Linked DNA regions of Homo sapiens. The protein of the gene in region 1 interacts with the protein of each later gene in a pairwise test. Each region holds a gene or a part of one and is shown in the gene's direction. Other genes may lie near its edges.

The links.
Region 2: the proteins of YTHDF3 (region 1) and PRRC2B interact in a two-hybrid assay, tested with the Homo sapiens proteins (one large-scale study listed by BioGRID).
Region 3: the proteins of YTHDF3 (region 1) and LARP4 interact in a two-hybrid assay, tested with the Homo sapiens proteins (one large-scale study listed by BioGRID).

Annotation. Positions count from the first base shown.
Region 1 is NC_000008.11:63,167,239-63,171,460, forward strand, and holds the start of YTHDF3 (YTH domain-containing family protein 3), read left to right. Parts: upstream 1-1,382; 5' UTR 1,383-1,639; coding exon 1,640-1,663; intron 1,664-1,766; exon of another isoform or gene 1,767-1,873; intron 1,874-2,148; coding exon 2,149-2,173; intron 2,174-4,222. UniProt on the Homo sapiens protein: Specifically recognizes and binds N6-methyladenosine (m6A)-containing RNAs, and regulates their stability. M6A is a modification present at internal sites of mRNAs and some non-coding RNAs and plays a role in mRNA stability and processing.
Region 2 is NC_000009.12:131,396,980-131,400,630, forward strand, and holds part of PRRC2B (protein PRRC2B), read left to right. Parts: intron 1-3,651.
Region 3 is NC_000012.12:50,477,149-50,480,609, forward strand, and holds the end of LARP4 (la-related protein 4), read left to right. Parts: 3' UTR 1-2,856; downstream 2,857-3,461. UniProt on the Homo sapiens protein: RNA binding protein that binds to the poly-A tract of mRNA molecules. Associates with the 40S ribosomal subunit and with polysomes. Plays a role in the regulation of mRNA translation.

The DNA of each region.
Region 1 (4,222 bases):
TAAATTCGAATTGATTGGGTTCCAAAGCCATGATACTAAGGATCAAAGACAAGGCTTGCAAGATTTAAGCCTCCTCTTGTATATTCTCTCTCAAGTTCCTGGCTCATAGCATGTACCAGCAAACTCATTAAAACTAAAACGGTCTGTTTGGGAGTGAAGGATGGGAGACATTGAGAGCAACAGCAGAAAGGGTTGGGGGAGTCTTGGGAAATGCAAGGGTGCTTAGGTTGGGACCCGTGGCAATGAATGGAAGGGCAAGGGAAACTGTCTAACCAGAACTTAAAAATGCCTCTTGGTGATTTACATGAAAAGTGGCCTCTCAAGTTTTTCTATTATTCAGTGCTTCTAAGATACTGTTGCACTGTAAACCACAAAATTAATCTTATGATTCTACAATTTTACTTTCTAAATGATCACTTATTTGATGGTTTTTGAAGTACAGAAAGTATTTGGTCATTTAAATTATTTCCTTCCATGGACTCTGTATCACTGAGACAAGGAATCTTTGCCTTTATTGTAGATATTTCAATGAAAATGTCAACACGTTGCAAATTGGCATACTTTGGGTTTGCCAATATGTGATAAAGAACTTTTTCAATGGAAACTTTCCCTCTTTTCAGGGCCGAAAAGACGCTCTGCAACTATACTTAAGTATCCTAGGCAACTTTATTCATTCAAAAACATCAGAGCGGAGTCAAAAGCACAAATCCATGAATTGGGCGGCGAAGTCTGACTCCAGAGATTACGGCTGAACTGGGTTTGGAAAGACTGAACCCGCGCCGGTGCTCCTCCTGTTTGCTTGGACTTAAGTTTGAGTACCACAACTCTAACCTGCCACTTCAGCTGCACGGGCAGGCTTGTGGGGACCCAGCAACTCCGTCCAGAGAGCGGCTGAGTCAGCCAGCCGTCCCCACGGCTTTGGGCAGCCGCCGAAGGCTCCTGCTAGGCCCGGCTGGCTCACCGGGAAGTTCCCTGCCTCCGTCCCGTCAGCCTCCAGGAGGGCGCCGCCGGCCGCCGTGACTTCAGCAAGGCACTACTATCTCCGTCAGCCGCCGCCTCGGCCATCTTCCTGCCCGGAGTGCAACAAAATCCGGCTCTGGCCAGCCTTCCAGCTGACGCCACTCTGCCAGGGCCCTGCAGCCTCGGAGCGGGATAGAAGGAAGCCGCAGAAAAGACGCTGAAAGTTGGCGCTCGCTGACGCCCCGACGCGCTCCCTCCATGACGCATGCGCCCACCGGCCGTGAGCGCGGGTCCGGTCTCCGGTGACGTGGCGGTGAGGAGGCGGAGCCAAGATCAGCGGCGGGAGGGTGGGGGAGGAAGAGCGAGGTGAGCGCGGACGTCAGAGTGGAGAGCGGAAGGTCAGGGAGGCTCGGAGCGGAAGTGAGACTAGGGAGTCTGTCCGCCATTGTGGACCCGAGAAGCAGAGAGCGAGAGGGGGAAGAGGAGCGTGCAAGCGGAAAAGACGGGCCTCTTCCTCCGACTCCCGAGCGCGAGGCCCTCATTTTGGGTTCTCAGCGAACGGCGGCAGCGGCGGCGGCTGGAACAATCACTCGGCCAAGGGCGACAGCCAACTGCTGTGAGTGCACGGGGAGAGGCCCAGGCAGCGGCGGCGGCGGCGGCTCTCGGGTTGCGGTGAAGAATGTCAGCCACTAGCGTGGATCAGGTGAGGGAGCAGAGGCCCCAGGCTTGGCGAAGGCCCGAGCCCCGGAGCTCCACCCTCGCGCGGGGCTTCGGCTCCTCCCCGTCGCCGCCGCTGCCGGCCCCATAACGGTGCCCCGGGCGCAAGTTGCTGCGGTGTAGCTACCCGGGCCGGGGCGTGCGCCCTGGCCCCGTAGCTTGCGGGCGGGCGGGCGCGGTGCCGCGGCGGGTGGGGGCAAGGACCGGTCTTAGGGGCCTTAGGACAGATCCTGAGGGCGGCAGACATGGGGCGGAGACCGGGCGAGCTCTGGGAGACGGATTCCGAGTGGCGGGTGGGAGGTTTAAAGGCTGGGGGTGGTTGGGAAATTGGTGGCTGTGGAGGATATGGTGGGTTTTTACTCCTACGCGGATAGTCTAAAATAACTTGTCTTTGATAATGCCTTTGATTAACACACTTTTTCTTTTCTTCCTTTTTCTCCTCTTTACCGCATCTTTCGTCTTGCAACACAGAGACCTAAAGGGCAAGGAAATAAAGGTGAGTTTGGATTTTTTTTTTTCTTATTGCTCAATGTTGCCTTAATGTTACTTTTAAACTCTGTGAGGGTATTTTGTTTGTTTTTGCTCCCTCTTGGGAAAAAATGTAGGATTAGGGAAAATATTCATCATGGCTAAGGTAGCCAAGTTCTATCCAGAACTTCGGTAGTTCGTTGCTTTGAAGCCACTTTATAGAAACCAAAGTAGTACGAGAAACAGTTTCCTTGTCAGTTAAGCAGGTATTGGTGTGAACCTGGTGGTATTTCTTTGGTTTTCCAGTTTTTCTGTGTTATGTAACTTATGCCACAAAAAATTTCTACATGTGTATATAGACAAGTATATTCTTAAAGTGGACATTTTGTTTGACATGTCTGGATTACACTGGAAAATGGAAGTCTACATAGTATTCCATCACATTAATGAAAATTGTACTGTTAATCACTGATTCTATTGAAGTCAGTTGTAATGAGGCAACAACATGAGAGAGGTTAGAACTGAGTAGGCATGCCATCTTGCTCTATTGTTCTGATTGCAAGGTGTGACTCTATCTGGTATTTTATAAAGGGCTGAGAAGAAAATAGTTTGTGACATTTTTTCCAGGATTTTATAATTTTCTCTTTAGTAAAAGTACCATTGAAAGTAAAGTGTTTTTTTAAAAAGTGTGTTTTGTATTAATATGGAACAGTGCAGTCAGCTGACTGAAACATTATGACATTAGTCATGTGACATTTAGTTAAGTATAGAACAATAACTGCTTTCTTGGGATAGTGCCAATTAAATAACATCAGAGCAAATTATATATAACATTTTGTAGTGCTTGAAATTACACTAAAATTATGCTTTCTGTTGATTTCAGTAACACAGTGTTAGAAATTAAGATCTATAATAGCCTTTTAGATATAGATTGTCTTTGGTGCCCTTTAAATTCTTGTTAGGGTATTTATTTGCTATTGCAAATTTGGTGAATTTAATAGGTTTTGGATATGTAGATTAGTTTCCTCTGAATTATGGAATTTGTACATACCAGTTACATGGCACCATATTAGGTAACATTTTGTTTGTTTTCATTAAAGATGTTTTCTTGCAGTATGTAAATATTTAGACATTTTAATTTTTAAAATTTCATTTCTAGAATTTTTTTTGTTGTAAGCATAAACCTGAAATAAAAATTGGATATTGATTTATTTTAAATGAGTTTTTAAAAATTTGTGAATTTTAAAAAGAATGATCCATTAATTTCTTCTTTTGCTAGTCTACCCATTAGGAACTATGTAGACTTGGAGATTGTGAAATTGTGGTCATTATTGCCTAGCATAAATTATTTTATCCTAGATCTGTGGGGAGGTGGCACTTTGCAAAGCTATTTGAAATGCTAAGTGTTTTATGTTACCCGCTTTAAGGTAAGTACACAAGTTCTATGAGGTACTTGTTTGTTAAAACAAAATAGAGCCTCTACAGCACTGTAAGTCAGTAAAATAAGTTTGATTTATGAGTGGTCATTTCACTTAGGTAGGCACTGGTGGCATCTTTGATATTAGATATGAGTTGAGTTATCTATAAACTGCATAATACATCCACTGTTTGCAAATAAGTATTTTTTGGTTATTTCAAAAATTTTTATCCATCAGTATCGCTTCTGTTAGTTGTATTCAGACACATACACAAAGTGTTTATTTTGATAGTTCTTTATTCTCAAGAAATTTTCTTTCTTTCCCCCTTGTTGTTCAGTTTAATAATTTCATCTAAGGTTAGAATAATGGATTGGGATTCCTTGGAGTCCTGAGTTCTAATACTGCCTTTGGCTACTGACTTGCCAAGTGAGCTTGAAAACATTTTACCTGTCTGTCAGAATCTCCCCTCTATAAAATAAAAATAACTCTAGTCATAATTCCCATAATTCCTATAGTATGTTGTTAGGATTCTTGTAATTACAGTAGTTCACTGCTCTAGTAGCAATTATATTTGCTGGATTTCTTTTCACTTTCCTCACTTAATCTATTTTTAAGGTGCAGGAAGACTCCTTTGCATGGAGCCTTGGCAGGAGGGGAAA
Region 2 (3,651 bases), on another chromosome or scaffold:
TTCCCGCAACCATCTTGTTGGTTTTTTGGTAAAATGTGGCACCCCCTCCAGACCTCCTAGCTGTGGAACTGAGATATTTTAGCAGGGTCCTGTCATCCTTTGATTTTTCCTCGCTTCCTGCCTCTTGGCCCTTCCTTTTTGTCTGACTTCACTCGGGCCCAGTCTGGCTCTATACTGTTAACTGGTTAGTTAGGCCAGGAGATAGTCGCTGCCTCTCCCATGAGCTTCTGCATACCTGTGAATTTTGGTTATCTGTGGCCCCCTAATGCTGATTGCATGCCCTTGCCTTAGGCCCTAAGCCCACTGTGTGGGCGTCCCATCTCGTACAGTGGCCGTCTCCAGCCTCCACTGGGCCCAAATAGGTAAAAAGAAAGCCTGGGGAAGGAAGAGCCAGGAAACCTCGGGAGAGTGGAATTTCAGGAATGGCAGGTCAGAACTGGTTCCAGCATGGGTCCCTTTGCCTTGTGCTTAGCTGAGGGATTTTTGTTATTAATTTTTTTTTTCCTGTTCAACACTCCTAACCTCTTTTGAATTTCAGTTCTCTTTTTTTATCCTGAAGGATTATTTTATTGTACTTTTGAGGGTTTTTTTTTTTTTTTTTTTTTGCCTTGCACAAAGTACTGACTCATGTTGCTAATGGCTGTGGCTGTATGCTAGTTATATGTCTCATTATCCTACCCCTTAAGATTGATCATTTCTGTGTTGGTTTCTATTTCAAACCAGAATAGGCCAGGTGGGTCAATTCATGTATTTCTGAATTCAATAATGAGGCTTCCCTACCGTGAAATGTACATATCTTGTCATGGGCGGACAGGTACTAAATAGAGCCTATCTATACTAGATTTTAAAACAATGGATTTCTCCCCAAAAAACAACATTTCCAGCAGACAATGGGCTTTGTGCTCCAAATCTTGTAATTTTGGTTTTAAATAAATTTCATGTAAGGAGGCAGGGCTAACTAGACTGTCTTCTTTTCAGATCATAACTTGATCTCTTTTTAAGATTATTTCTGGGACTTGTACAGCCTCAGGAAACTTGGGTCTGTCATTGGGACAAAGAAATACAGGCACTGGCTGTGGTGTTGGAGATGGGAGCGACATGGGATATGGTGAGCTTTGTTTCTGGTGAAATAGAATTGTTTGTCATTAGCTTTAGGTTTAAAAGGTGCCATTCAGACTGGACCTCCTCACCTGGGAGCTGGCAGACCTGGGCCTTGCCATTGGCGATATTACTGTTTATACCTCTGGGTGGCACGTGGGAAATCTCTTTTGTGCTGGGAGGTAGGTTTGTCTTAGTGTCTTGAGCCAGAAGTTGTGGTTGAGCTTTGTTCTCAGCTGTACTTGTTGGTTTTCTGTGTGACCTGAGAAGCATCCTTCGTCCGAGCTGAAGTGCACCTCCGAGGTGCTGGCAGCAGCACTGATTTGTGAAGCATTGCGTGCAGCAGGAGTAGCTGGCAGAACAAAGCCTATCTCAAGTTGCTGGCGGTCTTTCACATCTTGTACAGGACTTCCTTCCGTTCTTACCTCTGCAGCCAGTTGTGTGGCTTCCGTCTGGACCGTCTTCCTCCTTTCCAAGATAACCATCAGTCTTTTTCTCTGTGGGGCTGCAGCAGCAGTATTTATTGCATTTTTAATTGACTTGTCAGGCAATAGATACTCCTTGAGCACCTATCATTTGCCAGGCATTGTACAAGGCCCTTTAAATACATTTTTCTTGTGGTAGGGCAAGGTGGCTCATGCCTGTAATCCCAGTACTTGGGGAGGCCAAGGCAGGTGGATTGCTTGAGGCCAGGTTAAGACCAGCCTGGGCAATGTGATGAAAATAAAAAAATGCCTCTTAAAAGAAAAAATTAGTAGGGTATAGTGGCGCATGCCTGTAGTTCTAACTACTTGGGAGGCTGAAGCAGGAGGATCACTTGAGCTTGGGAGGTTGAGGTTGCAGTGAGCCGTGATCATGCCACTGCACTCTAGCCTGGGCGACAGAGTGAGACCCTGTCTCAAAAGAATAAAAAGTAGGTCGGGCACGGTGGCTCACGCCTGTAATCCAAGCACTTTGGCAGGCCGAGGTGGGCGGATCACCTGAGGTCAGGAATTCAAGACCAGCCTGGCCAACATGGTGAAACCCCGTCTCTGCTAAAAATACAAAAATTAGCTGGATGCCGTGGCGAGTGCCTGTAGTCCCAGCTACTCAGGAGGGGTGAGGCTGGAGAATCACTTAAACCTGGGAGGTGGAGGTTGCAGTGAGCCGAGATTGTGCCACTGCATTCCAGCCTGGGAGACAGAGTGAAATTCTGTCTCAAAAAAAAAAAAAAAAAAAAAGTCTGGGCACGGTGGCTCACACCTATAATCCCAGCATTTTGGGAGGCTGAGGTGGGCGGATCACGAGGTCAGGAGATCGAGACCATCCTGGCTAACACGATGAAACCCCGTGTCTACTAAAAATACAAAAAATTAGCCGGGCGTGGTGGCGGGCGCCTGTAGTCCCAGATACTCAGGAGGCTGAGGCAGGAGAATGGCATGAACCCGGGAGGCGGAGTTTGCAGTGAGCCGAGATCACGACACTGCACTCTAGCCTGGGCCACAGAGCGAGACTCCATCTGAAAAAAAAGGAAAATACTGAAAAGAATAAATGCCAAAATAAATATATAAATCACTTGTGACCTCACCATCCAGAGCTAACTGCAGTAAAGTTGCTGGTGTGTTTCTTTCCTCTGATAATGTCTGTGTTTTCTAAATTAGAGCAATAGTATATATACATTGAATACACAGTTGATAGCTTGCTTTTCCCCTTTTAATGTTATAGTGTATTCCTCTACGTTATTTTTATAATTATATAATTGCTATTATACGGATATGCCATAATTTATTGACTCCTGTATTCGTAGACATTTAGATTATTGTTGCCCTCTTTTCCCTCCTATAAGAGAAACTGTAGGGAGCATCTCGGCATGTTAAGTCTTGGTCCACGTGGCTGATTATCTCCCATAAGTGGAATTTCTGGGGTCAGAGGATTGCAGGTTTGTTCTTCTCTTCTGGACAGGATCGGTTGTCTCCTTCAGTCTTTGTCACCTCCCTCTCCAGCCTTGAGCCCAAGGCAGTCTCTTTCTTAGTTTTTTCTTTTTTGAGGCAGGGTCTCACTTTGTCGCCCAGTCTGGAGTGCAGTGATGTGATCTCAGCTCACCGTAACCTCTGCATCCTGGGCTCAAATGATCCTTCTGCCTTAGCCTCCCAAGTAGCTGGGATCCTATAGGCATGCGCCACCATGCCTGACTAAGTTTTGTATTTTTTTGTGGAGACGGGGTTTCGCCATTTTGCCCAGGCTGTTTGTTTTTCTTTTCTTTTCTTTCTTTTTTTTTTTGAGATGGCATCTTGTTCTGTTGCGCAGGCTGGAGTGCAGCCGTGCGATCTTGGCTCACTGCAACCTCCACTTCCTGGGTTCAAGCAATTCTCGTGCCTCAGCCTTCGAGTAGCTGGGATTACAGGCGTGCACCACCACACCTGGCTACTTTTTGTATTTTTAGTAGAGACGGGGTTTTGCCATGTTGGCCAGGCTGGTCTCGAAATCCTGACCTCAGGTGATCCACCTGCCTTGGCCTCCCAAAGTGCTGGGATGACAGGTGTGAGCCACCGTGCCTGGACACCCAGGCTGTTT
Region 3 (3,461 bases), on another chromosome or scaffold:
AAGTCATGAGATTTTTTAGTAAAGATGAGAAAGATGGTTGAAGAAAATTAGTGCATAATTTCTCAGTGAATAAAGTTGTAGCTCTCATATACTAAATAGACAAGTTTACATGCTGTTATTTAGAAAATGACTAAAATATTAAAAACCGTGTTGTGTTAATCTGTTTTAAGTCATACCATGTTCAGAGTTCTATGTAAGGTGGGTTTTATTTTTCTTTTAAGGGATAGTTTGTAATAGTAAGAACTGTCCCATATGTTAGTAAATTACATATGTACAAATTGAAACTGTAAATTGTGAACACTGGAAAGCACCATTGTGACATAGAGTAAACATCTTAGTAATATATTAAAGTGAATGTAAATGGTGGTTAAAATTACATTACTGTGAAATTCATCTTCCAACTCTAAGTTAAGCTTTGGAGATACATGTTAGTGGTTAACTGTTAAGAGCTTTGAAAACACTGCACATATCTGTACAAGCCAGAATTACTATTTCTTTGACTTATTATTAGCTTGGCAGTTGCTTTTGATTTGATTGTTTTATGACATGGTATACTACTATATTTACTCAGTTTGAAACTATTCATTTCTACACACTATTTTTAAAAATTGCCTACTAGGTGAAACATAACAATAAAACTACCTGTGCTGAAATTTGGGGGAAGTTTAGGTCCTTTAAAAAAACATATTAATCATTGACTACATCTATGATAAAAGTGCTTATTTTGGTTTACTAAGATAATGCAGTTGGTGGAAATGATAAACGTTTTAAGTGTTAACATCCTTTGAATGCGTTGGATTTCAGAGAATAAACATTTTGTAAAAATCACTTGGTAAGGATTATAAACTTAATTACTGCACTTAAAATGAAACATTACTTTTTTTAAACAATGTGTCACAAATGTAGGTCTGTATTACTTGTATGCTTGTGTGACTTACTGTTAGTCCAGCTCTAAAAATTTAAAGGTTGTAATTGAAATACAAGAAAAGAGCCTTCTTTTAGAAGAAAGCAAGTATATTTTTGCTTTTACTTCAAATGTTATTTAAAGTAGAAATTTAATTTGTAGATATAACCTTTAAAAATTTTCTCATTAAGACAATGTTTTTAATTTAATTTGCCTCATTACATCTAATAGTTCCCATTTGATGGCATGTATAGGGAAGAGTGAGAGAGTGTGTGTGTGTGTATGTGTGTGTAATATTTATATATATTCACAGTATGTATTTAGCATTTATTTTATTACAGCAGATTTAAAGTTTGTATCTAAATAATGCCTATGAGTTGTGTGAAGCTCTTGGCTTTTTTCCAACGTTACTTTGTAACTAATGAGGGTGGATGTTCATTGTAGTTTATTTATTTGGTTCTTTAGATGGAGGAATTTAAAAAATCAAATTTTTCTCTTCACCTTTATGACTTGACATTTCCTTGATCTGTTGGAGGCTAAAAGTAGGTATAAATGATATTGAATGTTGGGTATAGTGATACTCTGCCATAGTTCTTACTGCATGAAGAGAACAAGAGTCACACAAGTTCACCACTTTGCACTTCATAGAGAAGGTACATAGAGACATTGCAAAACCTGTCTCCATTTGCTATCCTGATAATTAAGGTTTTCATAATACCTAGGGCCTGTCTCTGAGTAATTTTAATTTTGCCAAATACACTGACATTTAAAATAGTGATCCATCTAAATTTTTTTCAGCTGGGTTTTGAGGAATATAAGAGCTTTCAATGATAAAGGTTTGTTGTAGTTGTCTTATGTGCTGAATTTGCAGATGATCAGATGCTGTGCAGAATTCTGATTTATTTTTGTTTCCTAAAATTAAGATAGCTTGAATATTATTTCACATTCCTTTTTCTTTTTTAAATAAACAGGTTTGCTTTGGAAAGGCTTAATGATGGAATGTTAGCATCTTCACTAGGGTAAAGAAGAACAAAAAGAATGTTGCTGGAACGTAAAATAGTATTTAAAAGTTAATGAACACTTCTCTAGTTTTCTTAGTTATGGCCTTAATAATTAGTCTCTTGGCTTAAATGTCCACTGGTTTTACTTTGACACAGTTGAACAACACTGGGGTTAAGTCTCTGGTATTTAGGCTGGCAATATATATATTAACCATATTTTAAAAGTACCAATTTTGTTTTTACAGAAAAGATAAAACTCAAAAGAGAACAGTGTATTCCTTCTGAGGGGCTTTTATAAATTATTAACTATAATATATGATGGATTTTTTCCTAATTTTTTATATTTCCTTACAATTTTGGTGGCCATTAATTTAACTTTAGGCTTTTGGGCATATGCTAGTCTGAGCTTCCGAAAAGATACATATATGTTTCCCTTTTCATTAGCTGAATGAGGATATTTTAAGAAGTTGAAAGAGAATTTATTTTCAAGTTGTGAGTAAATCCTCCTTTGAAATTCACCTGATTATTAGATAACTTAAAGTTTATTTTTAAAAGCTGACAACTTTTTATGAATCTTCGAGTTGACAGTTCCTAAAAGCGTAACTCAGATATTAATGGGCTGTGTATTAAATGGTTTTATTTTCAGTTTTGCAGCACAGAACACTGTTGAAATATCCATATCAACTTGATTTTTTTAACCTAATTCAGGTGTCCTTTGCATCTCTTAAATGTTGGGGGTGGGGGTCAGAGCCAGTTATCCGGCTTCTGTTTTGTCGATTGCTTAGATTTGTTCCTGTTGTCAAAACTGTTACCCCCAAAATTGGTGTGACACATGCTCATGCATAAAATGTTAAAATGAGTACATCCTTGTATTTGTATTTGTTTTCAACATCGCCAAGGTGCTATGGGAAATTAACAAAATTAGAAAAAAAATAAAATTATTAAAAAGCAGGACTGGTTTCCTTTTCTCTAGGTGGTGTATGTCTAATGACTACTTCTGTCTACCTTTCAGTATTATATGTTGCCCTCGCTAATTCTATTATTATTATTGTCTAAGTTGTTTTTTGGATGATGAGGGCAGTGGGAAGTAATGGTGTTTCACTTAAAACAAGGGCAGAGAGACAAGATACAGCTTTATGATCCTGGGGTATTCTTTTAGTTATTTTAGTATCAGAAGCAGTTATTAAAGGGTGAAAAATGGCTGGGCGCGGTAGCTCACGCCTGTAATCCCAACACTTTGGGAGGCCAAGGCGGGCGGATCACCTGGGGCCAGGAGTTCAAGCCCACCCTGGCCAACATGGTGAAACCCCATCTCTACTAAAAATACAAAAATTAGCCAGGCATGGTGGTGGGCACCTGTAATCCCAGCTACTTGGGAAGCTGAGGCAGGAGAATCGCTTGAACCTGGAAGGTGGACATGGCAGTGAGCCAGGATCGCGCCATTGCACTCTGTCCTGGGTGACTGACTAATGAAACTCCGTCTCAAAATAAATAAAGGGGAGAAAAGACTGCAGTGGCCCTGTAATCCCAGGGTGCACTTCAGGGGGCCGAGGTGC